Linked DNA regions of Homo sapiens. The protein of the gene in region 1 binds, or shares a complex with, the protein of each later gene. Each region holds a gene or a part of one and is shown on either strand. Other genes may lie near its edges.

Region 1 (10,884 bases):
CTTCAAAATAGACGACAAAGCTATGGTAACCAAATCAGCATGATACTGGCATAAAGACAGACATGTAGACCACTGGAGCAGAATAGAAAACCCAGATATAAATCCACACATTTACAGCCAACTCATTGTCAGCAAAGGCACCAACAACATACAATGGGGGGAGAACAATCTCTTCAATAAATGGTGCTGAGAAAATCGGAAAACTGTACGTAGAAGAATGAAACTAGAGCTGTAGCTCTCACCATATACAAAAATTAAACAGGCCGGGCTCAATGGCTCATGCCTGTAATTCCAGCACTTTGGGAGGCTGAGGTGGGTGGATCACTTGGGGTCAGGAGTTCAAGACCAGCCTGGTCAACACAGTGAAACCCTGTCTCTACTAAAAATACAAAAATAGCCAGGCGTGGTGGCAAGCACCTATAGTCCCAGCTACTCGGGGGCTGAGGCAGGAGAATCGCTTGAACCAGGCTGCAGGGAGCCAAGATCGCACCACTGCACTCCAGCCTGGGCAACAGAGCGAGATTCTATCTCAAAAAAAAAAAAAAAACCAACTGTGTTATCCTCTCACTGAATATACCCCTTTATCATTGTACAGTGACCTGCTCTGTTTCTTTTCACAAGCTTGGAATTGTAGTCTCTTTTATCTGATACCATATATAGATACCAAGTATAGCTACCCCTGCTTTTTTTTTTTTTTTTTTTTTTGGTTTCCAGTTGCACGGAATATCTTTCTCTAACTCTTCACTTTCAGTCTAAGTGTGTCTTTATAGGTGAACTGGGTTTCTTGTAGACAGCATAGAGTTGGGCCTTTTTTCTTTTTTCTTTCGAGACAAGGTTTGTGGCCCAGGCTGGAGTACAGTGGGGAAATCTCGGCTCACTGCTATCTCCGCCTCCCAGTATCAAGTGATCCTCCCACATCAGCCTCCTGAGTAGTCAGGAATACAAGTGCACGCCAGCCACCACGCCCAGCAAATTTTTTTTTTTTTTTTTTTGGTAGAGACGAGGTTCACTATGTTGCCCAGGCTGGTCTCCAACTCCTGAGCTCAAGCAATCTTCCTGCCTTGGCCTCCCAAAGTGCTTGGATTACAGGCATGAGCCACCATGCCTGGCCTGGGTCTTATTCTTTATCCATTCAGCCACTTTATGCCTTTTAATTGGATAATTTATTTCCTTAACATTCATGTTATTATTGATAAGTAAGGACTTACTACTGCTATTTTGTTGCTTATTTTCTGGTTGTTTTCTTCCTTCTTTTTTTTTTTTTTGAGACAGAGTCTTGCTCTGTCGCCCAGTCATGACTGCAGTGGCGCGATCTCGACTCACTGCAACCTCTGCCTCCCGGGTTCAAGCAATTCTCCTGCATCAGCCTCCCGAGTAGCTGGGACTACAGGCACCCACCACCACACTCACCTAATTTTTGTATTTTTAGTAGAGACGGGGTTTTGCCACGTTGGCCAAGTGGATCTCGAACTCTTGACCTCAAGTGATCCGCCTCCCTCGGCCTCCCATAGTTCTGGGATTACAGGCGTGAACCACCATGCCTGGCCCCCTTTTTTTCTTTCTTACTGTCTTCCTTTGTGGTTAAGTGATTTTCTCTGGTAGTATGTTTTAACTTGTTACTTTTTATTTTTATTGAATCTATTATAGGTTTTTGCATTGTGGTTACCTTAAGGCTTATAAAAAAATCTTATAACAAGTTTTTTGTTTTTTGTTTTTTTTTGAGATGAAGTTTCATTTTTATTGCCCAGGCTGGAGTGCAATGGCACAATCTCGGCTCACCACAACCTCCGCCTCCCAGGTTCAAGCGATTCTCCTGCCTCAGTCTCCCGAGTAGCTGGAATTACAGGCATGTGCCACCACGCCCGGCTAATTTTTTGTATTTTTAGTAGAGAAGCGGTTTCTCTATGTTAGTCAGGCTGATCTCGAACTCCCGACCTCAGGTGATCCGCCTGCTTCAGCCTCCCAAAGTGCTGGGATTATAGGTGTGGGCCACCGTGCCTGGCCCCCTTTTTTCCTTTCTTACTGTCTTCCTTTGTGGTTAAGTGATTTTCTCTGGTAGTACGTTTTAACTTGCTACTTTTTATTTTTATTGAATCTATTATAGGTTTTTGCATTGTGGTTACCTTGAGGCTTCTAAAAAAAATCTTATAACAAGTTATTTTAAAGCGATAACATCTTAGATCACAAAGAAAAAAATAGAAACAATGAATAAAAACTCCACACTTTATCTCCTTCCCTCCCACATTTTGACTTTTTGTTTCCTCAATTTACATATTTTTATTTTGCTTGTCTTTTAACAAGCTGCTATAGCTATTATTGTTTTAATTATGGGGTCTTACTGTGTTGCTCAGACTGGCCTCAAACTCCTAGGTTCAAGTGATCCTCCTGCCTCAGCCTCCCAAGTAGCTGAGACTACACCCAGCTCAATATTATTGTTTTTGATAGATTTGTCTTTGAGGCTTTATGGTAGAGTTAAGAATGAATTGCATACCACAATTACAGTATTGGAGTATCCTGGGTTTCTCTGTGCACCTAATTTTACCAATGGGTTTTATACCTTCAAATATTTTCTTTGGCCAGGAATGATGGCTCACACCTGTAATCCCAACACTTTAGGAGGCCAATGGGGGAAGACTGCTTGAGCTCAGGAATTCGAGACCAGCCTGGGCAACATGGCAAAACCCCATCTCTACCAGAAAGAAAATACAAAAATTAGCCAGGCATGGTGGTGTGCACCTGTAGTCCCAGCTACTCAGGAGGCTGAGGTGGGAGGATCACTGGAGCCTGGCAGTTTGAGGCTGCAGTAAGCTATGATTGGGCCACTGCACTCCATCCTGGGTGATAGAGCAAGATCGTGTCTCAAAAAAAATTTTTTTTCTTTTTGCATGGTTTTTTTTTTTTCCGGATTGAGGAACTCTCTGGAACTGTCTTTCTTCAAGAGAGCATTTCTTATAATACAGATCTGGTAGTGGTGAATTCTCTCTGCTTTTATTTGGGAAAAACTTTATCTCTTCTTCATATTTGAATAATAGCTTTGCTTGATACAGTATTCTTGTATGGCCTTCATGGTTTTGATTGAGAAGTCTGTGGCCAGGTAAATTAGAGCTCTTTTAAGTGTTATTTCCTTCTTTTCTCTTACTGTTTCTAGGATCCTCTCTTTGTTCTTGACCTTTGAGAGTTTGATTATTATATGCCTTGGGGTAATCAAATCTATTTGGTGTTCTCTGGCCTTTCTGTACCTGGATATTTGCAATTTTTGAATGTCTTCCATTGTTTCTTTGAATATCCTTTCTATCCCCTTGCTCCTCCTCAGCTCCCTCTTGAACACCAATAATTCTTAGATTTTGTCTTCTATATTTCGTAGGTGATTTCCATTCCTTTCATTCTTTTTTCTTTTTTCTTCTGTATGTATTTACAAACAGCCCGTCTCCAAGTTCACTGATTGTTTCCTCTGCTTGACCCACTCTGCTGTTGAGAACCTCTAATGAACTTTTCAGTTCAGCAAATGTATTTCTCAGTTCTAAGATTTGTTTGGGTTTTTTTTAAATTATTATTTCAATCTCTTTGTTAAATTTCACTGATAAATTTCTGCGTTGCTTTTCTATGTCGTCTTGGAATTCACTGAGTTTCCTTAAAAATGCCATTTTGAATTCTTAGAAAGCTCACATATTACTGTCTTGTTAGGTTTAGTCACTGGTCCCTTACTTGGTCCATTTGGGGAGCTCATGGTTCCCTGTTTGCTTTGGTTTGTTGTTAATGTACATCTATGCCTTTGCACTGAAGGATTAGTCACTTATTCCAGCCTTCTCCGTCTGGCTTGTTTTGGCTTTTACTGGCTCCATTTGCTTACAGATTCTTCGTAATTGACCTGTTGGTTTCTTTTTTTCTGCTAGGTTGCTGCCTCCTTTTTAGCACTCAGTGGCACCTTAAAACCAGGTTTGCCTTGGCTCTATTAAAGATCAGAGCGTCTCCCATCCCGAATGGGGGAGGTCCCAAAGGGGATATCCCAGTAGCATAGGAAAGCTGGCTAGGGGTTCATTCCCAGGGGAGCTATGGAAGAAACCTCCCACAGCATGGTGCTAACGAACAGCCACTCTGATTTGGCATCTCCTTTGGCCAAGTTATAGAGTAGAGAGAGTTTCCAGGGCTGGGGATGGTAGTCCCACCTCCCCACTTTGTCTGTGGCTATTCTCAGAGGATATTTCTCCCTTGAGGCACTCCTGATGGTTGTATTCTTGTGATTACAGCACTTTGGGAGGCCAAGGCAGGCGGATCACTTGAGCTCAAGAGTTTGAGACCAGCCTGGCCAACATGGTGAAACCCTGTCTTTACTAAAAATACAAAAATTAGCCAAGTGTAGTGGTGGGTGCCTGTAGTCCCAACTACTTGGGAGGCTGAGGCAGGAGAATCGCTTAAACCTGGGAGGCGGAGGTTGTAGTGAGCCAAGATCATGCCACTGCACTCTAGCCTATGTGACAGAGCAAGACTCCGTCTCAAAAAAAATACAGATCTTGTGTGAACTAACAGAATAAGAACTCACTTGTTACCGTGAGGACAGCACCAAGTCATTCATGAGGGATCCACCCCTATGACCCAAACACCTCCCACCAGGCCCCACCTCCAACATTGGTGATCACATTTTAACATGAGATTTGAGACTGAGTAACAAGTGTTAGGATTAAAGGCATGAGCCACCGCGCCCGGCCATCTTCTTTACCTCTCCACTGTGTCAGTTTTATTTTTCTCTTCTTCTCTAGACACTTTGTTCCTCAAGATAGGGGGCAGAGTGGGAAAATGACCATAGTCAGAATCTATGGGAAGGACCCACCCAAAAGGAAAAGGCTTCTTGTGCCCAGGCTGCAGATCCAAACCCCAGGGAAGGACTCTCATTGGTTCAGTCTCCATTCTGTTCCAGGTGGAGCATAATGATTGGTCCAGCCTGACTCGTTTGCCCATCTCTTAACCATCAACATGGTGGGGAGGGGACACGCAGGAGACTGTCAGCTCCTATCCTAAACGGGGGAGGGGGCAGGGGTGATCATTTTCTGAGCTCCTATAAACAAAGTTTCAGTTCTTTTTCCTCCTATGGCTGGAACACTGGAATAAGGAAAGAGGTCGTCTGTCTGGAGAGGCTGGTTGGGGAGTATGGTCTCCCCAGCCCAGCCAAGCTCAGGTCCCTGCATACAGCAGGCGCCTAATTGATGCTTATAGCACGAATGACTGAATGAATACCCCGTTCCCACAGGCTGTCCTGGGATGGTCCTAATTTCACAGACCCTGAGCGGATCAAGAATGAAGCGGGCCCAGGGGTCCCGCCCACCGGCTGAGTGCGTCTTAGGACGCAGAGACAAGACCACGGAGGGCGGAACCTCTGAGCGTTAGGTGGCACCTTGGAGACCCCGCCACCTCCAAAGGCCCAGTTAGGGGCGGAGCTTCTAAACCCTAGCATTTTGGATTGAACCATCGTCCGTCGGTTAAAGGGGAGAGCCGAGAAAGCCCTTCTGCATTTGTCGCCAGCCTTTTTACCACCTCCTGGCCACAGAAACGACGTATTTGCTTCTCTAACGGCGACGCCGTTTCCCCCTTCGCCTCGTTACTCCTCAAAGCCCCACGCGGCCACAGAGTTCAGACTTACCCACCACCACCTTGCAGTGGCTCGCCCCAGTTTGACGCATTGCAGGGAAGGTCGGACCAATGGGCGCCAAGCTCTCATTTCCGCCATGGGCCAGGCCCAATAGTGACGCGGCTCACAGAGGGACGCGTCACGCACCGCCGAGCTGTGCCCCTCCGCCGAAGAAAGTGAAGTGGGCCCGGGAGGCGGGGCGCGCGGCGAGGGAAAGTAGTCCGGCGACGGGAGCGAGCGCGCGCGCGCCCGGCGGCAAACCCAATTCCTGTGCAGGGTGGGGACGAGAGATTCGCGGGCCCGTAGGTGTGGAGCGGGGCGCGGAGGGATCCGTGGGAGCCGCAGTGCGGCGGCGCGCGGGCCGGGTGGGGCGGGGCCGAGCGAGGCGGGGCGCGCGCGGCGGCCGTTGAGGGACCGTTGGGGCGGGAGGCGGCGGCGGCGGCGGCGCGCGCTGCGGGCAGTGAGTGTGGAGGCGCGGACGCGCGGCGGAGCTGGAACTGCTGCAGCTGCTGCCGCCGCCGGAGGAACCTTGATCCCCGTGCTCCGGACACCCCGGGCCTCGCCATGGTGAGTGAGGCTGGGGGGTCGCCGAGGCTGCGGGCTCTGAGGCGGGCTTAACGGGGCAGGACCCCTGAGGGGGCGACAGAGCCCAGAGTGGGGGGCGTCCGGGCCCGGCGAGAGCCTCGGGACCCTTTTCTACCCGCGTTGTCGGGGGCTGTTGAACCCAGAGCGGGACGTCTGGATCACCAGAGGTTTCCAGAAGCGACTTTAGCACCAAATGGGATGTTTAAGTCCACAAATGGGTATCTGAGCCCCTAAAGGGGACATTTGAACCCCGGATGGAGGATCGGGACCCTCAGTGGGACCCCTCAAAAGGATTTTGGACCCAGGATGGGGCGTTGGGTTTCAGGATGGAGGTGTTTGGACCCCAGGGGACGAAATAAGAAAGATGGGCTGGGGAGGGGAGCTATTCGGGCCCTGATGAAGGCGTTTGGTCCTGAGAGGATGCGGGGAACGGGGGACGAAGGGAGGCTGGGCTGCTCCTGGATGGGGTGGTGGAGGGTAGCTGGGCCCGGGCGGGGAGGGGCGACCCCTGGGCTCCTGTGGAGCAGAGGAGAGGGTCAAGGATGGGCGGTCACTTCTACAGATGAGACTCCCGAGGGTGGGGGAGGGTGGGGGAGGGTGGTCTCCAGAGCCCAGCACTGCAGAGGAGGAGGAGGGTGAGGTGCAAGCTTATGGGAGGAAGAGCCTGGGGTGGGTGGCAGCGGAGATTAGAAGATACTCTTGAAGGCTTCCGGGACGGAGAAGGATCAGGGTCGTGGAGGTGGTGAAAAGGGATGGTGAGAGTGGGGCTCGCCAGTAGTCGGGGGACAGGGACCCTTGGGGTTAATTTGGAAGTAGCTAGAAAAGGTTCCGAGGTTACTAGTGGGTTAAGACTGTTGCTCTAGAAAGACAGAATTTTTTTAACGGGGTGGGAGTGTTGTGTTTGGGTCCAAGAGAAGATGGATTTCCAAGGTGAGGGGTGGGGGAGGACTTGGGCTTGGGTGGTTGGGAGGTGAGGTGGAAGGAGAAAATGAATGGCAGTCAGGGGGGCCTAGGTTTGGGGGTGGATGTGGGTAGCACCCTGCCAGTCTCCAGGGACAGGCCAGGACAAAGACGGCTCAGTGTGGATGGGGAGTGGGCTGCAGGGCCCGGAGGAAGCTTTTCTACCGTCCTCCTTCCTCAGGAAGAACGCGGCTGGGTGGAAGACACCGGGGCAGTGGGAGCAGGTGGGCGGAGCTGTTCGGGCCCCTATTGCGCACTGAAGCCTCATGAAATGGGGATGGGAGATCAAAGTTTGGGGTGCCTCGAATGAGCCAGCTTTTTCAAGCCTAGAAGCCTCACTCTGTCGCTGCCCTTTTCAGGCCAAGAGCACTGCCTTTTCCCAGCAGGAGCGCCGGTTTTCTCATGATCCCCAGCCCCACGCACCATGCTGCACCTCGTCACTTGTGCCAAATGACAGTGCAGTACAGTGTGGCGTCAGTGACAATCAGATGCCTATTCCCGTGCCCTCGGGGTGGGGGCTGCAGAGCTTGATCAGAGAGTGCCTCTGGGGAGACCCCTTGATCGGCCTGAGGGCCACTTGTTCCATTCAGGGCCCTCGCTGAGCGTGTCTGTTAATTCACAGGGCTTTGAGAGAAAACCAGCAGACTAGTTCTTTCCTACTCCCTGCCACCCACAACACCCACAGCCCCACCAGGCTGAGCCTGGGAACCGTGTGCAGCCATCCTCCCTGGCAAGGCTGGGGAGAACAGGCAGCCGCTGCTGTGTATCAGATCTCATACTTGCTGACACAGACCTGATGGCTCCTCTTGCCGCTACCCCATTTTCCCCCAGCAGAACCTGGCTAAAAGGGGCCCTGAAGCACTAGCAGGCCCCCTACCTCCAGAATAGGACCCAAGCTTTGGCCACAACTAGTTTCTCTTTCTGTTTGTAATCAGCAAGGTAGAGGTGGGACAAGTCACTGGTAACTGGCCTTGGACTTTGGCCTGAGCTCTGTGGCTCCTCCTTGGCCCGGGTGAGGGGCCCTGGCCTTGGTTTCTGATCTCATCTAACACTGCTCTCTGGCATTGGCTGGGGGCTGGGGCAAGGCAGAGAAATCACACCCTCTTCCCTCCCCCACCTCATGGTTTTTTTTCTTGTCCAGCCCCTTGCTGGAGCCTAAGATGAGGGATAAGGAAGCAGGAGACCAGCTGAGTTATTTTGGAAACAGTTTTTGTTGAAAGTTTAGTCTTCAGGTCTAGAAAGGGAAGAAACCTTGAGCAAGGATCAATGATATCTTCTTAGGCGGTCGGTTTTCTGGGCGGCAACCTTGCTTGAGATCTGTACCTTTCCTTGACCAAGCAGGGAAGTGGGTCTCCAACATGGGAGGGAGAGCATCTGACAGGCCCTCCATGCAGAGCCACGCCTATTTGCAGCAACCCTGTGACAGAACTGAACATGGCAGTGCCTCATCTGCATCTTCCAGTCTTTTGGTGGAGACTGGCAAACGGTGGCCTTCAGAGCCGCTCGGGGCAGTCTGCAGCCTGTCACAGCCTCCTCGCCCCCACCCCCAGCCCCTTACAGTGCTGCCCAAAGGTCCGGGGAGCTGGACTTCTTGCAGGGCGGAACAGTGGGCTGGGAAGGCCCTGACCTGGCTCGCTTTTTCCATTCTAGGCCAGGGGAAAGAATGAAAAGCAGATGGGATGGCAGCCACCTCCCCACACTGCTGCCCTCCTCTCTGTTCTTTCCCTGACCCTCCCTGGGCATTGCCTGGTCTCGGTAACCAGAAGCCCATCCTCCCTTCTCACTTTCCCTAAGCCTCTTCCTCAGGTGTCAGGACCTAAGGGATGGCTCCAGGCTTTTTTGTCCATGGTGGGAGGTGGGGGGCAGGTGGATCAAGAGGCTCATGGGCCTGGGGCTACCAGGTTGGCATTTAGAAGCCCAACCACCCTGTCTTTTTTGAAGGCAATGCAGAAGAATCTTCATTTGGCCTCCCCACCTCCCCTTTACACTTTGGACTTTTCCAGAATGTGCATGTGTGCCGTTTTCTCCCTTCCTCTTTCCCCCTCCCTAAGCCCTCTCCCCTCTGTGATCATCATTTTGATTACCCCTCCCATTCTGCCTATTTGGGGCTTGCAAGTTCTTCTTCCGTTAGGTTTTTTTTTTTTTTTTCTAACTTTTTTAGATCAGTGATTGTTAATATTTGGGACGGGGATGGGGGTAGGGGAGGCAGGCAGTGGTTTGTTCCTAGCTTCTGGAACCTCTCCGTAGAATACTGCAAATTCACATAATAGTCTGCTTCTATTTCTGAGGCTCTCAGACTCGAGACTAGAACATGCTATAGACTTGGAGCCCCTTTCCCTGATTGTGAAAGGAAGGGGAACAGACCCACCATGGTCCCGGGATGGTGGTGCCTTCTTCACAGCATCAACAAAAACCAGGGAAAATGTGTCTTTTGGCTGCTAAAGCTAAATGTTGGGATTCAGCCTCCCCAACCCCCCAGCCCCGCTCCTGCCCCATAGGATCACTATGCCTGGCTGATGCCCAGCACACCAGTGCAGGAGAAGCCAGTCCCCGCATCTCCTCCCCACCCCCAAACCCCGCATGCAGCAAGGGCTGCCTGCCACCCACTGGCCAGTCCCCAGAGTGCCCAAGCTGGAAAGGGTTAAAAACTGCAGTGCAAGCCAGCTTCAGTCCTCTGCTGCTGCCCGCTGCAGCCCTCTCCCTGACGTTTGTCCCTTCTGCCCAAAAGAAACAAAACAGAATGGCCCTGTGCCCTCACTGTGCGCAGGGGGTGGAGCGCCTGCCTCCAGCCTGACCAGAGTTCTTTAGGTGCTTGAGCAACTCGGGCCGCCGGTTAGGAGAATTTTTGCCACTTGGGTGGACTCTGCCTGAGCCAACCGCCTCCAAATAGGTGACACAGAAACTAGCAGAGATAGCCCCAGACATCGTCCCTCTGCCCTACCCAAGGACTGGCCTGCTTCAGTTTGGAGCCTTCTAGAGCTTCTTGATGAGGCCTCCAGGGCAATCGTTCCCTTCACTCGGCCTCTGGGGCTCTCACTGATGAGATGCAAACCTGTGCCAGGCCTCACCAGCGCTGCTGGTTTGGGGCTGGGGCAGGCTTTTCTCCCGCCCCTGTGGCTCCCACATGCTGAGTTGAGATTGGAAGCCCGTGGGTCTGGGCAGCTTCATCGGGCCGTGCGTCCAGCAGGCCTGAGTGTCCAGCCCACCCTGGTACCCAGCTTTCTGAATCACCAGACTTTATCATCAGGCGCTGGCTCTGCCTCAGACCCTGACTCTGGCATGCTCCTCCCTGGCCCGGCGGGAATGGCACGTGGAGCTGGCCTCACTGGGGCCGAGGGTCTGGGCTGAGTGAGGAAGATGCGTCCGTGCTGTCCGGCCTGGTGACTGACTTTCCCCTTCATGCTTTTACAGGCTGACCAGCTGACTGAGGAGCAGATTGCAGGTGAGTCTGCTATCCCCCTCATCTTAGCTCAGGAAAGCCTCCACATCCCCAGCCAAATCTTAGCCACTGAGGAGTGACATCTGATGGGTGAACCTGTGTATCCCTTGTGTCACCTAACACTATGCCTTGTGCCTAGAATGCTGATAAATGTGTGTAAGAGCACACCAGTGCCCCAATGACACGAAGCCCCATGGCCCTGAGACAGGCCTTTACCAGACACCAAAGGCTGTGTTCCTCTCCTGGGCCTGGGTCATCTAGGGGCTTGATATCAGTG
Region 2 (11,028 bases), on another chromosome or scaffold:
GCCTAAGTGAAAGAATTTCGGCACATGTACTGGCAATGAATCACATATCCTATCTTTAACCTTCTTATTTATGGATAAAGACACAAGTCTACAACTTGAACTGTGCACTTCCTGGGGCTCCTTTTGGTCATGCCCCTTGCTTCAGACCTTTCTTCTTGGCCCTGTTCTTTAAGATTGAAGTTGTTCATACTTCAAGGCTTGGCTACCATTGTTAGAACATTATCTGTCCATTTGAATTTCGGAAGAGTAAGGGCCTTTCCTCTTTAAAACGTTCCTCATTCTTTCTAGCCTTCCCCTCTCCTTCCCTCTGTTTCACCAATTCTGTTAACTATAGAAACCACCTTCCCAACCTGTCACCCGCTCCCCGAACTGTGACTGTGTACACACCATTTTATTCCTACTTTCTCCCATCTCTTGCCAAGAGGCCCATGGAAAGTTGTTCTACTACTCCTTGAGCCTGACCTGGTTACAAGCTTCTGGCCTACCACCCCATTTCTTCAGGAAATAAGGTTTAAAAATGGGCTTCCATACCATATTCCCCTTGGAAGTCACATTCATAAATTTATAGACCACATTTGCATATTATCAGTAATCATAATTTGTCTTACATTCAACATGTCTGTTGAATGTTTGCACAGTTGCATTTAATCAGATCTCTGCTGTCTTATTTGGGAATTGGCTCTCAAGTATAGCTTGCTTTGGAGAAGTGTGCCATAGGCTTGTATCTGTCTTTACCATTCAAGACTGGACTTACACGTAAATGTGCACTAAATAGCACATTTTAAAGTTTTTTTTAATGGAAACTATTTTGCTAGACCATACAAATGAATCAGGCAGGCTGTTAGAAGGCCCTGCCAGAGATCAAGTTTGGTGTGTCTGAAACTGTTGTGTTTGACCCTGAGGGACCTTGTGTGAACAGTTCTTGCTTAGGTTTCTACTGCTTTTCACTGATTTAGGATCTGCTGTGTTTTCTGTTGGTTAAAACTTGATAATAGTAAAACTTACAGCAGAATACTCGTCCAGAAAGATGTCTTATTGACGTTCATTTATTAAGCTGCTTTCTTTACTTCCATTTCAGATTTGTCCAATATGTGCAGCGTTACCTGGAGGCGATCCTAATCATGTCACGGATGACTTTGCAGCTCATCTTACACTTGAACACAGAGCCCCTAGAGATTTAATATCCTTTTAAGAGATGACAAGGAAAAGAGTTGTTTGTAATGTTTGTCATTTTGATTTTTTGTTTTGGAGACAAGATCTCGCTGTGTCGACCTGGCTGGTCTCAAACTCCTGAGCTCAAGTGATCCTCCTGCTTCAGCCTCTTGAGTAGCTGGGACTATAGGCACACATGTGCCACTGCATCCAGCTTGTCATTTTGATTTTTTTTAAGGATCATATCCCCCAAAAGAGGAAAAGTAATGTCCAAATTATTTTTACTTATTTGAACTTTTCCTAAAAGTGACTCAGTGCTGAGATGCAATTTATTTCTCTTTTTATATACTATCACCATTGTATGAACCATTTTCATTAAGTGAAAGTTGACTTGTCCTTCATCTTTAGTTCATTACAATTAGATTTTTTTTAAGGCAGTTTGACCAAATTGTGTCTTCCAGGATGGCGTTTTCATACAAAAGAGGAAAATGTTAATCCAAATTAAAATTTAATTAGTTAAATATGAAGAGGCATTATTTGCTTTCCCTCTCTGTTCCTCTGCTGCCTTACCCTGTTGTGGGTGTGGTGTGGTGAGATGGTGGGGACAGGTGTGCATCTTGGTGTTCCTTTCCTTTTTGGGGTCCCCTTCTCCAGAGAGAGCCATTTCCTGCCGAGTTCCTGAGTAGGATAGCATAAGGTCAGCTCTAGCTTTAAATTTCCTTTCCTGCTTTTCTTTTCTTTTCTTTTTTTTTTAAAAGTCGGAGTCTTGCTCTGTCAGCCAGGCTGGAGTACAATGGTGCTATCTTCAGCTTATTGCAACCTCCACCTCCTGGATTCAAGTAATTCTCCTGCCTCAGCCTCCCAAGTAGCTAAGATTACAGGTGCCCGCCACCACACCCAGCTAATTTTTGTATTTTTAGTAGAGATGGGGTTTCACCATATTGGCCAGGCTGGTCTCTTGGCCATGCTGGTCTTGAACTCCTGACTGCCTGCCTCAGCCTCCCAAAGTGCTGGGATTACAGGCATGAACCACTGCGCCTGGCCAATTTTTGTATTTTTTTAGTAGAGATGGGGTTTCACCATGTTGGCCAGGCTGGTCTCGAACTCCTGACCTCAGGTGATCTGCCCACCTCAGCTTCCCAAAGTGCTGGGATTCAGGCGTGAGCCACCACGCCCAGCCTCTTGCTTTTATTTCTGCATTCCCTTCCTTGTCTCTCAACAGTTTCTGGCAGTGTTCCCTGAGATTACTGGCCTACCAGAGCGATTAATTTTGTGGACTCAATGCTTCTGATTTCAGGTTATGAATTGTTCGTCTAAAACTGTCACCAGCTGGGTACAGTGGCTCATGCCTATACTCCCAGCACTTTGAAAGGCCAAGGTGGGAGGATCACTTGAGCCTAGAAGTTTGAAACCAACCTGGACAACATAGGAAGACCCCATCTCTACCAAAATAATGAGCTCAGCTGGTGGCACACACCTGTGGTCCCAGCTACTCAAGAGGCTGAGGTAGGAGGATCACTTGAGCCCATGAGCTCAAGGCTGCAGTAAGCTATGATTGCACCACTGCACTCCAGCCTGGCAACAAAGTGAGACCCTGTCTCAAGATACATATATATATGTATATATAATCATAATATAAAATTATCAAATATATAAATATGATCATATCACTTTCTCTAGAACCCAAACCATCCTCATGAATATGATGGAACAGGGCATGTACCGTGACACCTGAAGGCCTCTTGGAGCTACCCATCCGGTCCTTAAATAACTCCAGAACCATCAGCTGAAAAACTGAGAAGCCAGCCAAAAAATTAATCTGCATTATAAAGCTGGTCTGTTTGGTACTTTAAAGGAAAAATCTCTTCTATATGATCTGGCCTCCCCCACCTCTCATTTGCCTTTGTGGAAACGTAAGGTTGTCTTCATGAGTTTTGACAGCTATTTGCAACTCAGGACCTTTTTCAGTTTGACTTACACTCAGCTGTGTAAGACGGTTGAGGCTGCTGGGAATTTTTCTTCGTGATAAATGTCATGTTAATCTATCTGTGTGTCTTATACAAGAAATGCAAATCTGTTTTCTGCTTAGCAGCGGCATTGGAAAGAAGCTTGAAGACAGAGTAAAACTAATAATCCAAAAGGAACCTTTGATGTGCTGAATATACATTCAGTATTGTTCCTTTTTCATTATAGGTGGTATTTGAGATTTCATGAGCTATATAGAGAAACTTTTTTACCTCACACACCCAATACACACACACACACTCACATGTTGCCTTACATTTGAGTGTCTTTTTAGGGTTAATAGCCCTCATAGATAGAGTTGGGACATTTGCACTTTAAGTTAAATGTGCTGTTTTTAAATGCTTACAATTCAGGAAATCTTTACATCTGTCTAGCAAGGACTCAGGTGATTTTTTTTCTTTCTGTGAAATACTTTCGTTTTTTTCTTAACTTTTGGGTTATGATGAATCGAGTGGTGTTCGACATGTACGTAGAATGTTTCACCCTGGCCGGGGATTAGGAGGTCCTCGTGCTCGTAGATCAAACATGCACTTTACTAGCAGTTCTACTGGTGGACTTTCTTCTTCTCAGAGTTCATATTCTCCAAGCAATAGGGAAGCCATGGATCCTATAGCTGGTAAGTTAGTTTCACATTAATAAGGGAAATGGCAGGGGAAGGAGGAGCTCCTTTTAAAACTTTTTGTGATGCCAGGTGCGGTGGCTCACACCTTTAATCCCAGCACTCTGGGAGGCTGGAGCGGGTGGATCACTTGAGGCCAGGAATTCAAGACCAGCCTGGCCAACATGGCAAAACTCCATCTCTACTAAAAATAAAAAAATTAGCCAGATTTGGTGGTGGGTGCCTGTAATCGCAGCTACTCTGGATGCTGAGGCATGAGAATCGCTTGAGCCTGAAAGGTGGAGGTTCCAGGGAGCCGAGATCGCACCACTGCAGTCCAGCCTGGGTGATGGAGTGAGACCCTGTCTCAAAAAAAAAAAAAAAAACTTTTTGTGAGATTTGTGTTCTTAAGTCTCACCTCTCTGATCATAAGCCATGTTCCTTCACAAAATTCCCAAATACATTAAAAGTGTAAAATGTGTTAAAAGCAGACACTTAACATAAAGTAATTCATACTCTTCTGGCATTGCTTAAGTCCAGTAGTCCCCCCGTCATGTGGTTTTGCTTTCCTGGGTTTCAGTTACCCACAACCAACTACAGTCAAAAAATAGGTGAGTACAGGACAATAAGATACTTAGAGAGAGACCACATCACATAACTTTCATAGTATATTTTTAGATTTACTCTATTTTGTTGGGAATCTCATGTTCCTAATTTATAAATTAGGTGCCTAATTTATAAATTAAACTTTAGCACAACAGATAAGTATGTATAGGAAAAAACATAGTATGTATAGGGTTCTGTATTATCCAAATGCCCATTTCAGCCATTCACTGGGGGTTTTGGAACGTATCTCCTGCAGGTAAAGGGAGACTACTGTTCTTAGAGACAAAAGATGATAAGAAATGGTTTTATGTTGTATTTGTGGCCTCTATTGAAGCCCAAGGAAATCATAAAAGATTTCAACTTGAATACCTCCAAAATGTCATGGTTAAATCTCCATAAGTACACATAAAAAAATGTCCAAAGCACATTTGAAATTAAGGTTTTATAAGGTATAGCTAACATTTTTAAGAACATGTTATGTGTAAAATTCTGTCACAGATTTATGCCTATCTCAGATGTTGTGCAAGGCGCCTCATGGCTTCCAGGTACACATTCCACCACATGGACACATTTCAGAACTGTTATCTATAGCTAATTGAAAAGACTAAAGAATTAAGCTCTTCTCATGGAAGAAAGGAAAGTAGGACTTAATGTCCTGACCTTGATTTGAGAACTATATTGTTGTAGAACATACTGAAAGGTACATGTTTAATAGCTTGGGAAAAATCTTAAAAAAAAAAAAAAAAACACAGTTTTTGAACCTGGCCATGTCACTGAGTCTAGTACATGACAAACCTAGGAAGTTGGTAGCAGAACACAGGGTCAAAATAAAATACAAGAAATCACTGTAGCCTGATAATCTGCAAGACACACCAAGCAGACAAGTGGTAAGACAGTGGGAAGTGTGCACACATTTAAAGCAACAATTCTGAAATGTGTCCATGTGGTGAAGTGTGCACCTACCTGGAAGCCATGAGCACCCTGCAGAACACCTGAAACATTGATAAGTGTAAATCTGTAATAGAAACTGAGAACATCAGAGCTAAATGACAACTTAGGAACACAAAGGAGGAGACAGCAGACACTGGGGGAGGGTAGCAAGAGAGAGAGGAGCAGAAAGATAACTGTTGGGTACTGGGCTTAATTGGGTCCTGGGTGATGTAATAATATGTATGACAAACCCTCGTGGCAGGTGTTTAACTGTGTAACGGACCTTCACATGTACCCCCAAACCTAAAATAAAAATTTAAAAAAGAAAAACAACCTAAGAACAATTTTATACCTATCATGTTATTTAAAAGTTAGATATACCATATAAAATTTTAATTCCAAATGTGCTTTGGACATTTGTGTGTGCAACAACAAAAACAAGCCTAATAAACTGAGTTTGGGGGATTTAAAAAATATTTCTTCATCCAAAGGGAATATTTACCTGCTATTTTGGTGGCAGGCACTAAAAATTAAAGTAGTTTCTGGGAGCAAAATTCAAAATTGAGAAATTTTCTTCATTTGATTTTTTTTCTGTCAGTGAAAATTAGTTTATTTTAGTGATAGACTGTATATTCCATGAAAGAGTGGTATAAGAGTGCTATAAAAAGCCTGGGATAAAGCAACAGTGAGCAAGAAAACAAACTGTTAATGAGTTTTAATGATAAAGAGTTTTTGCTGGCCTGAAAGTGTCTGCAAGGCAGTCATCGATTCCCTATAAGCGAGGTGGACCCTCCACTTGGAAGAAGGCATTTCACTGTACCTTACTTAGATGAGGATGCGGGGACAAAAGTTTACACCTCTCTTAATGAGTACAGCCTTATGGACACAAGACAGTCTGGATCATAACAGGCCACTAAGTAGGCTGTACAGTCAGATGCAGCAGGTTCTCAGGAGCCAGTCAGCCTTGCTGAGCACTGGTAGTGGTATCTACTGCAGTGGTACTCTGAAACAGCAGTACCAGAAGGTACTAGAGGGAGAAAGCAGAGGCAGAGAGTGTGCAAGGGCCACCATCAGAAATGATCCAGGCCTCTTGGACTGAATCCTAATAATTCATTCAGTCATTCAGTAAATGTTTGAATTCCTGCTATATCAGGCCCTGTTCTGATAGCTGGGAATATAGTCAACAGTAGACCTCATCCCTGCTTCCATGGAACACATATTGAGAGAGCTTATATTATAATTGGGCCCACAGATAAACCACTTCATTAAATACTAAGAGAAAGCTTCACTAAATTAGTCTATTATGCAAATAATTTTAAAGACAATTTAAGTTTTACTTCAAACATAATTCAGTCTGGGTTAATATTCGTATGCATTTGCATTCTCTGTCCACAGTAACTCCTGCCTTCAGGAGGCATTCTAGAAGGATTCAGCTCTTAAACTGTGTGCTGTGGTGGTTACCTACCTGTTCACAATGCTTTTGATGTTGTTCCAGTAAAAGAGTGATCTGTAGCGTTTTGTTTTCCTCAGTATTAAGCAGACATTAATTGTCTTCATTTCCATTGGCAGAGCTTTTATCTCAGTTATCAGGAGTGAGACGTTCTGCAGGAGGACAGCTTAATTCCTCTGGCCCTTCCGCTTCTCAGTTACAACAACTGCAGATGCAGCTGCAGCTAGAACGGCAGCATGCCCAGGCAGCACGGCAACAACTGGAGACCGCACGCAACGCAACCCGGCGTACTAACACAAGCAGTGTCACCACTACAATCACACAATCCACAGCAACAACCAACATAGCTAATACAGAAAGCAGTCAGCAGACTCTACAGAATTCCCAGTTTCTTTTAACAAGGTAGCTCATTTGTTAATAGAATTTTGTTTGGGAAGTAATATTTTATTGCCACTACAGTCTGGAATTATCTTTTCTCTTTTGTGCATTATATTTCTTTAAAATTTTGTGTTTGATTAAAACTCACAGATCTCTGATTAAAACGCATATTCAGTATTTCCCCAAGAATGTGAAACATAGTAATTATTTTAGATAAATTAAGAATACTGGGCCAGACCCAGTGGCTCACACCTGTAATCCCAGCACCTCACACCTGTAATCCCAGCACTTTGGGAGGCCAAGGCAAGCAGATCGCCAGAGCCCAGGAGTTCCAAACCACCCTGGGTAACATGATGAAATCTTATCTCTACAAAAATGAGCCAGGTGTGATGGTGCGCACCTGTAGTCCCCGCTACTCAGGAGGCTGAGGTGGGAGGATCGCTTGAGCCCTGGAGACAGAGGTTGCAGTAGCCAAGATTGCACCATGCACTCCAGCCTGGGTGACAAGAGTGAGACCCTGTCTCTAAAATAAAATAACTGGTCTTGTTCTCAAGGTATATATCATCATATAATATGAATTGTTTTGCCATAGTACCCATAAAACTTAAACACTATATCATTATATATATATGGTTCATATTAGGTGTATTTATCATAATTAACGTTGCTTGTTATTGCCAGTTTTAATCTGCTTTGAAATATTAAAAGTATAAGAAGGATTTCATAATACAGTGGCAGTTTTCTCCTGTGAATTTCTAAAAAAGCTAGATTTAAATTTTTATGGTTGGCACACAAAAGTAACTTAAAAAAATGGCTTCCTATGGTATAAATAATATTTAGTAAAACAGTAAACTACTCTACTAGATGGAGTTCTTGTTTGCTTCTGAAACTGTTAGCAACTGCATGTATTTGTCTGCCAAAACTTCACAGGCATTTTATGTGACTTTTAGGAATATAAAGAATTCTTAAAAGAGCAATGATGAGTGGAGACTTAGCCTCAACAGATAATGAACCTGGACTAATTGGGCTTTTAAGGGAGCAGAGAGGAACATAAAGGAAGAACTGTAAAATGAAGAATAAAGTTTGTGTAATACATGATTATTTCCAAAATGCAGTGTGTATGACAATTCATTGGGATGTTAGAGGAAAATATTATAATTTCTACTTATGTTTCTTTTATCTCATACTCTGTTAATACAGTGGTGCATGTGTATAGTTATAAATAACATATTGTGGGTGCAGAATAAAAAATGCTTGAAAATCCCTGGGCTAGAGCCCCAGCTTTGCCAATTACAAGTTTTGGACCTCAGGCAAGTCATTTCACTCCTCCAAACCTCAATTTTATCATCAGTATCCCAGAAGTTTTGCCTTTAGAGAGATAATTATTTTGAGGATTAAATGGAATACTGGTATGTGTATGGTCTGGCTCACTATCTGGCCTATAGTAAAGGTCCAATTAATGGTACTCGTTATCAACATTTGTTATGAAACCAAGAAAAACATTTTAAATGGGTAATTTACCTTTGAATTATCTCTGCAAGGTCAGTAACTGTGCCTGGTTATTACCAGATAATGCTGCTTTAATGTAAGAAAACCACAGAGCCACAGATGGAGCTACCTGCTGCCATGTAGCCTTCCCCATAGGGACTGACCAGCAGCAGGTCTATAACATACCAGATCTAAGTCCCTACCTCAAAAAGGAGATCTACTAGCGTGCATTTCTACTGAGAGTTCACAGAACTGTGGGTGGAATGTCTTGCCAGTGCCCTTTGGAAAAGACATCTTCCTACCCACCCTTGCCCTATCCTTTTTTTTTTTAAGACCCAAACTACTCAGCTTGATCTGTAATTTTTTTCTGTGCATTTATTCCACACCCAACTCTCAGAGCATGGTATGAGTGACCTCTGAGTGCTGTCTGTGGATTCTGGTTGTAGCTTCTTGAAATCCCCCTTCTATCATCTGATACTGTACATTCTATGGTACCATGCAGTTTGCAAACCACTTTCCACATCTTTTATTGTATTATATTCATATGATTTATTTAAGGCAATATTTCCCCAGAAATACTCTCTTAACTTCATATATTCAAAGGAATATATGTAATTACTTATGTTCTTCCACCCCCAATTAATAAGGTTGCAGAAAGCAAAGTAAGGAAAATTAAGAGATTATTTACTGTTGGGCTTCTTAGAACTTCAAATATATTAACATGCATTGTGAATTTTCAAGGCAAGGAGAACGGCTGCAGTGTATGCAGGGGAGATCCTGCTCTCTGGTCACACAGCTCTTATGTGATATATATAGGGCCCAAGCCTTATTTTTGGTCTTTTCTTTGACCAGGGGCAGTTCCTATTCATGTTGCCCTGCAACTGATGGTAAGGTCACAGTTTCTTTGAAGTCCAAGATAGTTGACCTTTTAGAAAGTGATTATTGGAGTGTGTAAGTCAGATCGGTCTTTTTTTGAGATAGAATTTCGCTCTTGTTGCCCAAGCTGGAGTGCAATGGCACGATCTCGGCTCACTGCAACCACCGCCTCCCAGGTTTAAGCGATTCTCCTACTTCAGCCTCCCGAGTAGCTGGGATTATAGGCACGCACCCCCACACCTGGCTAATTTTTTGTATTTTTAGTAGAAATGGGGTTTCACCACATTAGCCAGGCTGGTCTCAAACTCCTGACCTCAGGTGATCCGCCCGCCTTGGCCTCCCAAAGTGCTGGGATTACAGTCATGAGCCACCGTGCCTGGCCAGATCTAATCTTTTGACAGTGGGACCAGTTCATTTTGCTAACCCCAACTTGAAGATCCTCACAAGCCTTGCAGTTTCATTTATATCCTAAATGTTATATTTCATCAAGAAATTTGTCTAGTCTCTGTGCAGATGAGCCAGGTTTCCCAGCATAGCCCAGATCTCATAAGTACATGCATCAGGGGAGCAAGTCAGGCAGGTAGACCTTGTGTCTGCCCTGCTACACTGTAGGTCCTTGGTAGAAGAAATGTAGGAGTTTGTATGTATGTGTTTTCTTGCCCTTTCTAGCTTCTGCATATACCAAGAAGAATTAAATAGAGTAATAGAGAAAAGTCAGAGGAAATCTTAGGATATTTTTCAGTTGAATATTCTGTTCACTGCAGATTTTGTTTTTGTGTTTTATTTTCCTCTTTTTATTTACCCCCAGATGAAATTCTGGTTAGATACTTTCCCAAGCATCTAATCTGTAAGAAATCCTGTTTTCCTTAGAAAATTTTCACCTAGCTTTCTCTGGAGTGGAAAAAGTCTAAATGTCTTTTTTTTTCTCATTGAGTCTAATTAAAGCATAGATTTGCACCTCCAGGTAACAGTATTGCAACAAGTGTGGGGAATTCGTCTCAACACAATTAAGGATAAATTACAGCCAAGTATTCCAGCAATGTCTCATTCTGAATTTTGCCACCTGTAAAACTTCACAGTGGAGAGCACTGTAGAAATTGGCCATGCCATTGTTCATTGACTTTTTAACAATAAGGTCTTTTCTTTTTAACTTACACAGGTTGAATGATCCTAAAATGTCTGAAACGGAGCGCCAGTCCATGGAAAGCGAGCGTGCAGACCGCAGCCTGTTTGTCCAAGAGCTCCTTCTGTCCACTTTAGTGCGTGAAGAGAGCTCATCCTCAGATGAGGATGATCGGGGGGAGATGGCAGATTTTGGTGCTATGGGCTGTGTAGATATTATGCCTTTAGATGTTGCTTTAGAAAACCTAAATTTAAAAGAGAGTAATAAAGGAAATGAGCCTCCACCACCTCCTCTTTGATGACATCCCAATTCGCAGACAATGTCCTCTGTGCTGTATTTGCCAATGAAAGTGGACAACAACTATCTTGGGTTTGTTTGGTGATTGTAATTTCAGGTCTGTCA

What was found.
Region 2: CALM3 (region 1) and KCMF1 share a complex: the UniProt entries of both Homo sapiens proteins name them as parts of the SIFI complex.

What each region holds. Positions count from the first base shown.
Region 1 is NC_000019.10:46,595,248-46,606,131, forward strand, and holds the start of CALM3 (calmodulin-3), read left to right. Parts: upstream 1-6,082; 5' UTR 6,083-6,187; coding exon 6,188-6,190; intron 6,191-6,821; exon of another isoform or gene 6,822-6,960; coding exon of another isoform or gene 6,961-6,963; intron 6,964-7,349; exon of another isoform or gene 7,350-7,392; intron 7,393-10,579; coding exon 10,580-10,610; intron 10,611-10,884. UniProt on the Homo sapiens protein: Calmodulin acts as part of a calcium signal transduction pathway by mediating the control of a large number of enzymes, ion channels, aquaporins and other proteins through calcium-binding. Calcium-binding is required for the activation of calmodulin.
Region 2 is NC_000002.12:85,042,486-85,053,513, forward strand, and holds part of KCMF1 (E3 ubiquitin-protein ligase KCMF1), read left to right. Parts: intron 1-1,078; coding exon 1,079-1,180; intron 1,181-3,618; coding exon 3,619-3,793; intron 3,794-6,880; coding exon 6,881-7,163; intron 7,164-10,662; coding exon 10,663-10,924; 3' UTR 10,925-11,028. UniProt on the Homo sapiens protein: E3 ubiquitin-protein ligase which accepts ubiquitin from an E2 ubiquitin-conjugating enzyme and then transfers it to targeted substrates, promoting their degradation by the proteasome.